Linked DNA regions of Homo sapiens. The protein of the gene in region 2 interacts with the protein of the main gene of each other region in a biochemical or structural test. Each region holds a gene or a part of one and is shown on either strand. Other genes may lie near its edges. The genes, in order: LMBR1L and LCN1.

Region 1 (3,908 bases), on a different chromosome or scaffold from region 2:
TTTTGGCAGTGATTATGACACTAAGACAACAGCTCCTCTCTGGGCAGCTTCACATCCCTGGCTTCAGCTATTAGTGGGTTCTAGAAACCATTTCCTCCCTTTGTCCCTACAGGCCTAAGGGTGGTAATGACTTCCTACTGTCACTAGAGCCTCAAACTTCCGTTAACTAAACCTCTGCAAATAGCCTCTTTATTAAAATCTCTTCAGCTGAACCATGTGTGTGGAATTCCGTTTCCTGCCTGGATACATATCCCCTACTTACCTTTCTGGAGCCAGCAAAGCCCTCAGACTCAGTGAAGAAATATGCAAAGGGCATGAGGAAGATGAGGGACAGGTTGGAGAAGAGAAAAACAAGGTTCCAGAGGCCTAGAGCAAAAAAGGAAGAGCAGAAGTGGTCAGTAAGGGGAGGGGCAACCCACAGGAGACTGACCATTTGCAGGAGAAGCAGAGTGGGAAGGTGCGACATATGACTGCTTGGCGCACGGCTGCCTGAGTCCACCCAACTCTATCTGCTCTCTGCTCCCTATCCCTACCCCAAGCAGCTTCCAGGAGCCACACACCATGGATGAGGGAGCCGTTGAGCCACTGGATGTAGTAGTTCCGAGGCAGGGAGAGCAGCACCTCATTGCTGATGATGGAGAAGGGCAGGAGCAGGACAGCACCCAGGGCAATTGCCAGGGTAAAGGTGCACAGCTCGAGCCTGGGCAGAGAAGGGGACAGTGTCCTTGCTTAGCTCAGCACTCACTACCCTGTGCTGAAGAAGCCCCATTTGTCCTGAGGGCGCCTGTGGCTTCCAGAACCAGCTGTAGCAATCACAGAGCTAAGGAAGGAGCTGTCCAGCTGGGGTTCTACCCACTGCCACCCCACCCTAGCTCTTTACCTCCAGGGAAGCCCCAGCTCATGGGATGGGCACAGCCTCGGGCATTCATGGGAACCTGGTCACCTGCCATGTCACATACCCAGGCTGTCCCCAGGAATGTGGTCCTCCCATACATGCCTATCAGTTATGCCAGGTATGATGCCAAAACTAGGGGACCTGGCTTCTCTTCTTTGGTCAGGGATATGGATTTCTGAGCTTACCTCTTTTAGCCCAGATAAGCACAGGGTCATCCCATATGGCTATGCCCTGCACAAAGGCATGAGGGCAAAGGAGGACAAGAGGGAACTGAAACCTAGCTTCATAGCCAAGGTCTATGCCCCGGGCTGCATATATTGAAGATGGGCACTTCTAGCTCTTTGGTCCATCAAGGGTGGAGGGCTGCCTTCTGATCTATTGACTCAAAGGAGTCATATCTCTATCTTTTTCTGTATGTACCAGTGAACACTGGCAGCCTGGAATATGGGCCTTTCTCCCAGAACCAAGCATGCCCCTCCCTCAGGGGTTCCCACCTTCCCCACACCCTGCTCTTTTTCCATCAATGTGCATCCCCACTCCACTCCCTCCCTATTGGTCGCTGGGAGGTGAAGCCAAGCTGGAGCCATTTCCGGTGACTCAGGCCCCAGCGGACGTTCCTGGCCATGAGGCTCCCACAAGCTCCTGGCCTAACCAGGAAGACAGGAACAGCAGCTTTTCTGAGCATCCCCAGGGTGAGGTAAAGCCGGAAGCCAGAAATGGGGTGGAAACAGAAACTCTCTCTTCACTGTGTGAGACTTCCCCCTTCTCCCTCCAGCTCCAGGCCTCCCTAGATCCCAGTTCCTAAAGACCACTGATGTTAGGTGCTGAGGCAGGGACACTTACGCAATCTTGTTGACGGTGGCATCTTCATCATCCACTGTAAGAGACAGAGGCACGGGGAACAGGCAGGAGGACATCAGGGGGCAGCTCTGAGGCCGTTAGTATTACAATGTGCTCCCTGCCCCATCCCTGCCCCCTCAAAGAAGGCAGAGCTGAACAGGAGGCTCCAGGAGACCACACATTATGAACTCCATAGCCTGTTCTCCAGCCAAGGTGGCAGCTTAAAAATCAGTGGTCCCAGGTGAAGAGAATACAGGCCAGACATTCCTATACTTCTTTACTCCTCCCTAGATCTCTCCCATCACAAGTTCCTCTTTATATGCTCAAACTATTAATATAATAAACAACTAGTCTGTGAGGTTGGTTACATCAGTGGCTGGGTCCAGGAAAGGGAAAAGAGAGGAGGGGGAAGGGGAGATTCACACAGAAAGTCCCCAGGGGAATTACTCTTGGGTAGCTGCCTTGTTGAGGGGGGACTCATCCTGAGCCATCCTAAGAGGAGGAAAGGCTGGAGCTAGGAACTGGGGCAAGTGTGCCCCCACCCCCAATTACACAATGTCTAGGGAAGGAAAGCTGCGATCTGAGCATACTCAGGCTCCCCATAAAGAGAAAGGCCACCATCACCAGGTTCCCCAGTCATCAGGGAGGTCTCTGGTCCTGGCTGTGGAAGCACTAGGAGAGGAGATGACACAGAGCCTGTGCCCGTAATGACATTCATCCAGCAGTTGCTCACTTCAGGTTCACAAAGGGCTTTCACATTAACCATCTCCTTTGGTCCACACAATGGAGTAGGTAGACATTGTTACGCCCATTTTGTAGGATGAAACTGAGGATCAGAAATGTTATATGACTTGCCCAGCAGACACATCCATCTAGCCGCCCTTGCCCCTATCTTGCAGAAAGGGAGGCTGAAGAGGCAAAGGCTCCAGAACAGCCCCACACAGCCACTGCTCCTTTCCCAGTGGGTACCATAGGCCCATTCCCCTGAGGCTGGTCCATGGCAACAGGGACTCTAGCAGGAGGGAGGGAAATCAAAGTACCTGTGGTGAACTCAGCAGGCTTCTTGAAGCGGGTCAGGAAGATGTGGCAGAGGATGTACAGTGTTGCAAACAGAAGTGTTGATATCTGTAGCAGAATATGAGCTGGGATGAGAAGCTCTAACCTTCAGCACACTCCACAGCCCCAAGGGCCTCTCTGTTAATTCCAGGCCATCACTTCCTCAAGATAAGGCTCCATACTTCCAAGGGTTCCATCTGGAAGTATGTTCTGTTCTGATCCCCCAGGTACTTCCTTCTAGTCAGGGCCCCAGGGGCCTCAAAGAAGGGCCAGACAGGGGCTGCCCCATGCACCTGGGGAAACAGCAACATGCCCAGCCCTACAAGGACTTCATTGGGAGAAAATAGCTTCAGCCCAACTCTGGTTGGTAAATGGGCAAAGAAAACTCCTAGAAATGCACATGCACACGCATTTCAAACCAGCTACAGAACCAGAGGGAATTTACTCCGAGCACATTATTGGGAATGAAAGCAGGTTTGAGGGGAGGAAGACGTCTGCATTGTCCTGGCACCCCATTGCTACCCCACCCTCCTACCTCCATGCACACTGCTGCCTTGACCCAAAGAAGGTGTCATGTTTCTAGACCAAGTCACAACTTCTATTCCATGCTTATTCAGGGGCCTGAAAGATCAGGTCTGCTCTGGGCCAAACCAGAGTCTCATTTAATCCTCTACCCCTAACAGTGGGCTTTAGCTGGGGCCCAATATCTATAGTGTTTCTAGAGCTGGCTGGACTGCCAAGTGACAGTGATGGCGGAACTCAGCCAGGTTAATCTGCATATTCATTCCTACTCTACTCCAAGTAAGCTGCTGCTGCCCAGAGGAGGAGCCATTGGCCAGCTTGGCTCTATAATCAAGAACAGAGAGTCTCCGCCAGGCACTGTGGCTCATACCTGTAATCCCAGCACTTTGGGAGGCCGAGGCAGATGAATCACTTGAGGTCAGGAGTTCAAGACTAGCCTGGCCAACATGGTGAAACCCCGTCTCTATTAAAAATACAAAAATTGGGCTGGGCGTTGAGGCTCACGCCTGTAATCTCAGCACTTTGGGAGGCCACAGTGGGAGGATCATGAGGTCAGGAGTTCAAGACCAGCCTGACCAACATGGTGGAACCCCAT
Region 2 (3,908 bases):
TGGTGGCTGCCTTCCCAAACCCCCCGCCCCCAACACATTTCCTGCCAGAGGCACCCAGGCTGCCTGGTTTGCAGGCAGCGTCTGTGGCGTGGGCCTGAGCCTCATCCCGCCAGCTGCATTCTTCCTTTTAGAGACATTCAGGCACAAGCCCCATATCCATCATCATCTGGCCCAGAGAGGGAAAGGTTCAGTGAGGGGCTTTGGGGGAAAAAAAAATCGGGGTCATTGCCAGGGTCAGTGACTTCCTGAGATTCAGCCCCCAGGACCGGAGCACAGGCACTGCATGCCACTCAGGAGGGAGCCATGCGGGTGAAATCACACAGGTGGGAAGTCACAGATGTGAGCCACGCGGGTGGAAGCAGCCCAGGTGAGAGCCGCACAGGTGAGCGCTACACAGGGATTTCAAGGGGGTCTTCTCCATGGTGTCTTCTCCTATGCCCCCTCTTGGTCATTCTGCAAGCCCCATCCCTGCACTTCTCCAAAGCAGAAATTTACTGCCAGGACTGGCTCTGACTCTGGTCGGGGGTAAACACCTTTTCCCAAAGGGGCCTGCACGTCACCAGACATTCCCTAGTCGGAGGAGGAAGTGGGCGGTACCCAGGGCTGCCACTGGTAGCCCACAGGGTCTGATCCGGGGCCTCTGCCCCCTCAGGGCCCCTCCAGCCGAGGCACCTCAGTGGCACAGTTTGCCCTCAAGCATTGCAGGAGGGGCCGAGAGAGGCCTCCCAGCAGGTCTGCCCACCTCCCCAGCACCAGAGCTCTCCTGGGTGGGGAAAGGGAAGGCCCTAGACCAGGTTGCAGGCTGCCCGGCCGGCTGGCAGACACTCACAGCATGGTGACCTTGGCTTCCAGGTTGCCCCCTTCCAGGGTCGTGAGGGTCATGGGTGTCACCGATTCCAGATTCATCTCAGGGAACTCCCTGTCCACCGTCATGGCCTTCAGATACCACGTCCCTGACACCTGGAGAAGGCCCCTCTCTATCAGGCTCAGGCCGACTGCTCCAGAGCCTCCCCCTTCCCTGGCCTGCAGCCCCTAGACTCTACCGCACCCCGAGGGCTGGAAACGGGGAACGTTCCCCAATCTAACCCACCCAGAAAACACCCAGCACCCTCGCCAGGCCCACTTGAAGGTGGCTCCAGCCCCCACAAGCCAGCCAGGACCACAGGAGCCCTCATCCCCAGGGAAGAAGTGAAGTCAGCCAGACCCCCACCCTCCCAGCCCTGCCCACTCTGCACCCCTGCGCCACCTACCCTGCCAGCCCAGACCCCTGCTGCCCCATCCCACCATTCCCTCAGGGCAGGGCTTGAATGCCCAACCCAAAAACGAGGGTCTCCTTGGATGGAGGAGGCATGGGGTCTCCATCCAGTCTCAGCCTCGCCCCTTGCCCCCTCCAGCCCAGCCTTCCCATCCGGGCCTCACATCCTGAATCTCCTCGTCTGAGGCCAGGAGGTGGTGGGCCTGCAGGGCAGCAATGAGGCCAAGGCTGACGGCCAGGAGCAGGGGCTTCATCTCCGGAGTCTGAGTCCACGGCCGCCTGACAGGTCGCTTGCTGGGGCTGGGAGAGGCTGTACCAGTCCTCCCACAGCCGCCCTTTATACCGCTGGGCTCAGGGTCCCCCAGGGACCTGGCACAGGAGACTGACCAATCCCTTCCTGGATGTAAACCACTGCCAGTTCTGCAATGGAGCAGATAACCTGCCATTATTGTTGGAGGCTGGTGAATAACAGCTTGTTAATCCCAGAGGATCACTTGGACAGGACCAGGTCCAGAGGAGCAGATTTGCAGATTTCACCTGAAGGGAAACTGAAGGGAGTGAAGGGTGTGCAGGCCTCCTGGGGACGTGTGCAGCCGTAACAGATGCCCCCCAGCCATCCCACACTTGCTGACGTGCACACTGTCAAGGGGGTTTGGGGTTGGAGTCCGAGGGCCGTGGGCTTGGGGCTCAGCTGAGCTTCCTGCATCTCTGGGCAGGTTACTTGGCCTCAGATTCATCATGGAAAAAAAGGGACCCTCCTGTGTGAACACGATCCCGTGTGCATTTAAAGACGGTGTCCACTGTCCTGAGCAAGGTGTGCAGTAACGACCCTCTCTGCTCCACACACAGAGCAGCAATAGGTCAGACAGACAGAAGACCAAGACAGGTGTGTGTGTGTGTATGCATGTGTGTACATATATACATGCACAAACGCACACACACTCACATAAAACAAGGAATGGAGGAGAAGCACAGGCTGGTGATGGGGCAGAGGCAGGGGCCTGTCAGCTCCAAGTCCCAAGGCAGGCAGAGAGGGCCTAGGTCCGGCTCCTGGGAGTGATGGGAGGGGCTTCCCTGACTCCAGAAAGAAGGCTGAGAAACCCTCCTTGACACATCCCAGGGCTGTAACTTCGTATAACTTAGTGGAGCACTGTGGGCATAGGAAGGCAAGAGGACATCAACACAGCCTCAAGGGCAGAAGCTGAGACAAGCCGTCCTTGGAAAGGATGACTTTATCTGTGACATGCTCTGCATCACTGCAGAGCAGAAGCCTGGGACCCGGGATGGGAGCAGAGGCTACAAAACACTGCTAGACAGAGGACAGTGACAACAAGATGGCAGAGAAAGGCAGAAATGCAGAGACACAATATCCTCACCTTGAAATAAGCTAGAAAGGCCAGGTTCCAAATTACCCAAGGAAACACCACACTAAGAAAGGCAGGCTAAAAATGAGCAATTGGTACAGGAACTTACACCAGCCAAGGAAAGTCTGACACACACTTTAAAACTGCAGGAGTATGATCAAGATGCCTAGTGATTTAAAAATATATAAAGTATAAAATTAGAACTGGCCAGAATATAAGAAATAAGGAGAGACGAAATAGAAATAATTACAAATCTTGAAGATGAATAATAAAGTGAATAAAAAACTCAATAGACAGGTTAAATTCCAGACTTGACATAGTAGAAAAGAGACTTAGTGTCATGGAAGATAGTACTAACAAAATCAATGAAAGCAGAAAAATTCAAAAGAGAAATTGAGGTGTTACAGATAGATTCAGTCTCCAGCCTGGAGCTAGTAATAAAATGAGTGGAGGAAACCAACTAGAGTGCAGCAGCTCTGAAAACACAACACACAGAGATATACACACACACATGCACACACACGCACACACACATGCACACACACACATGTGCACACATACAAATGCACACAAACCCATACACATGCACACCCACATACACACGCAGACATACACGCGTGCACACACCATTCATTCATACATACATGCACATACATGCACACATACACACACACATGCACACTCACACACATACACACATGCACACACATGCACAAAGTTAACACACATGGAGAATAGATCAGGAGGTTCCAATATAAACAGAATAGGAGTTCTGAAAGAAAAACATTTTCTAAAATGGCAACAAAGCAACAGAATAGCTCAGAATTCTTCAGAATTGAAAAGACATGAAGATGACACCCCAGATCTAAATTACCAAGGAATGATCAAAATTGAGAAATCCACTCCTAGAATATTACAGTGAAATGCAGATCATCCAGGAAAGGAGAAAAAAAGTCAAAATGACCAGAAAGAAGAGCCACACTACATACCATAAAAGCGGATGTGGACTGATGGCAGACCTCTCAATAGCAACGCTGCCTTCCGGAAGACAGTGGAGTGACGTCTTTAACAGACCCGGGAGAAATCACATTTACCTGTGAATGTTATTCTCAGTGCAACTTTCATAAAATATTGAAGGCAAAATAAAGACATCTCGGACATTAAAAAACAACTGAGGCCCAGTGTGGTGGCTCATGCCTGTAATACCAGCACTCTGGGAAGCCAAGGTGAGGTCAGGAGTTTGAGACCAACCTGACCAACATGGTGAAACCCCATCTTGACTAAAAATA

What was found.
Region 1: the proteins of LCN1 (region 2) and LMBR1L form a complex in vitro, tested with the Homo sapiens proteins (one study listed by BioGRID).

What each region holds. Positions count from the first base shown.
Region 1 is NC_000012.12:49,104,186-49,108,093, forward strand, and holds part of LMBR1L (protein LMBR1L), read right to left. Parts: intron 2,861-3,908; coding exon 2,776-2,860; exon of another isoform or gene 2,502-2,775; coding exon of another isoform or gene 2,360-2,501; intron 1,773-2,359; coding exon 1,739-1,772; intron 701-1,738; coding exon 561-700; intron 367-560; coding exon 263-366; exon of another isoform or gene 1-262. UniProt on the Homo sapiens protein: Plays an essential role in lymphocyte development by negatively regulating the canonical Wnt signaling pathway.
Region 2 is NC_000009.12:135,519,099-135,523,006, reverse strand, and holds the start of LCN1 (lipocalin-1 isoform 1 precursor), read right to left. Parts: upstream 1,568-3,908; 5' UTR 1,510-1,567; coding exon 1,420-1,509; intron 961-1,419; coding exon 830-960; intron 1-829. UniProt on the Homo sapiens protein: Could play a role in taste reception. Could be necessary for the concentration and delivery of sapid molecules in the gustatory system.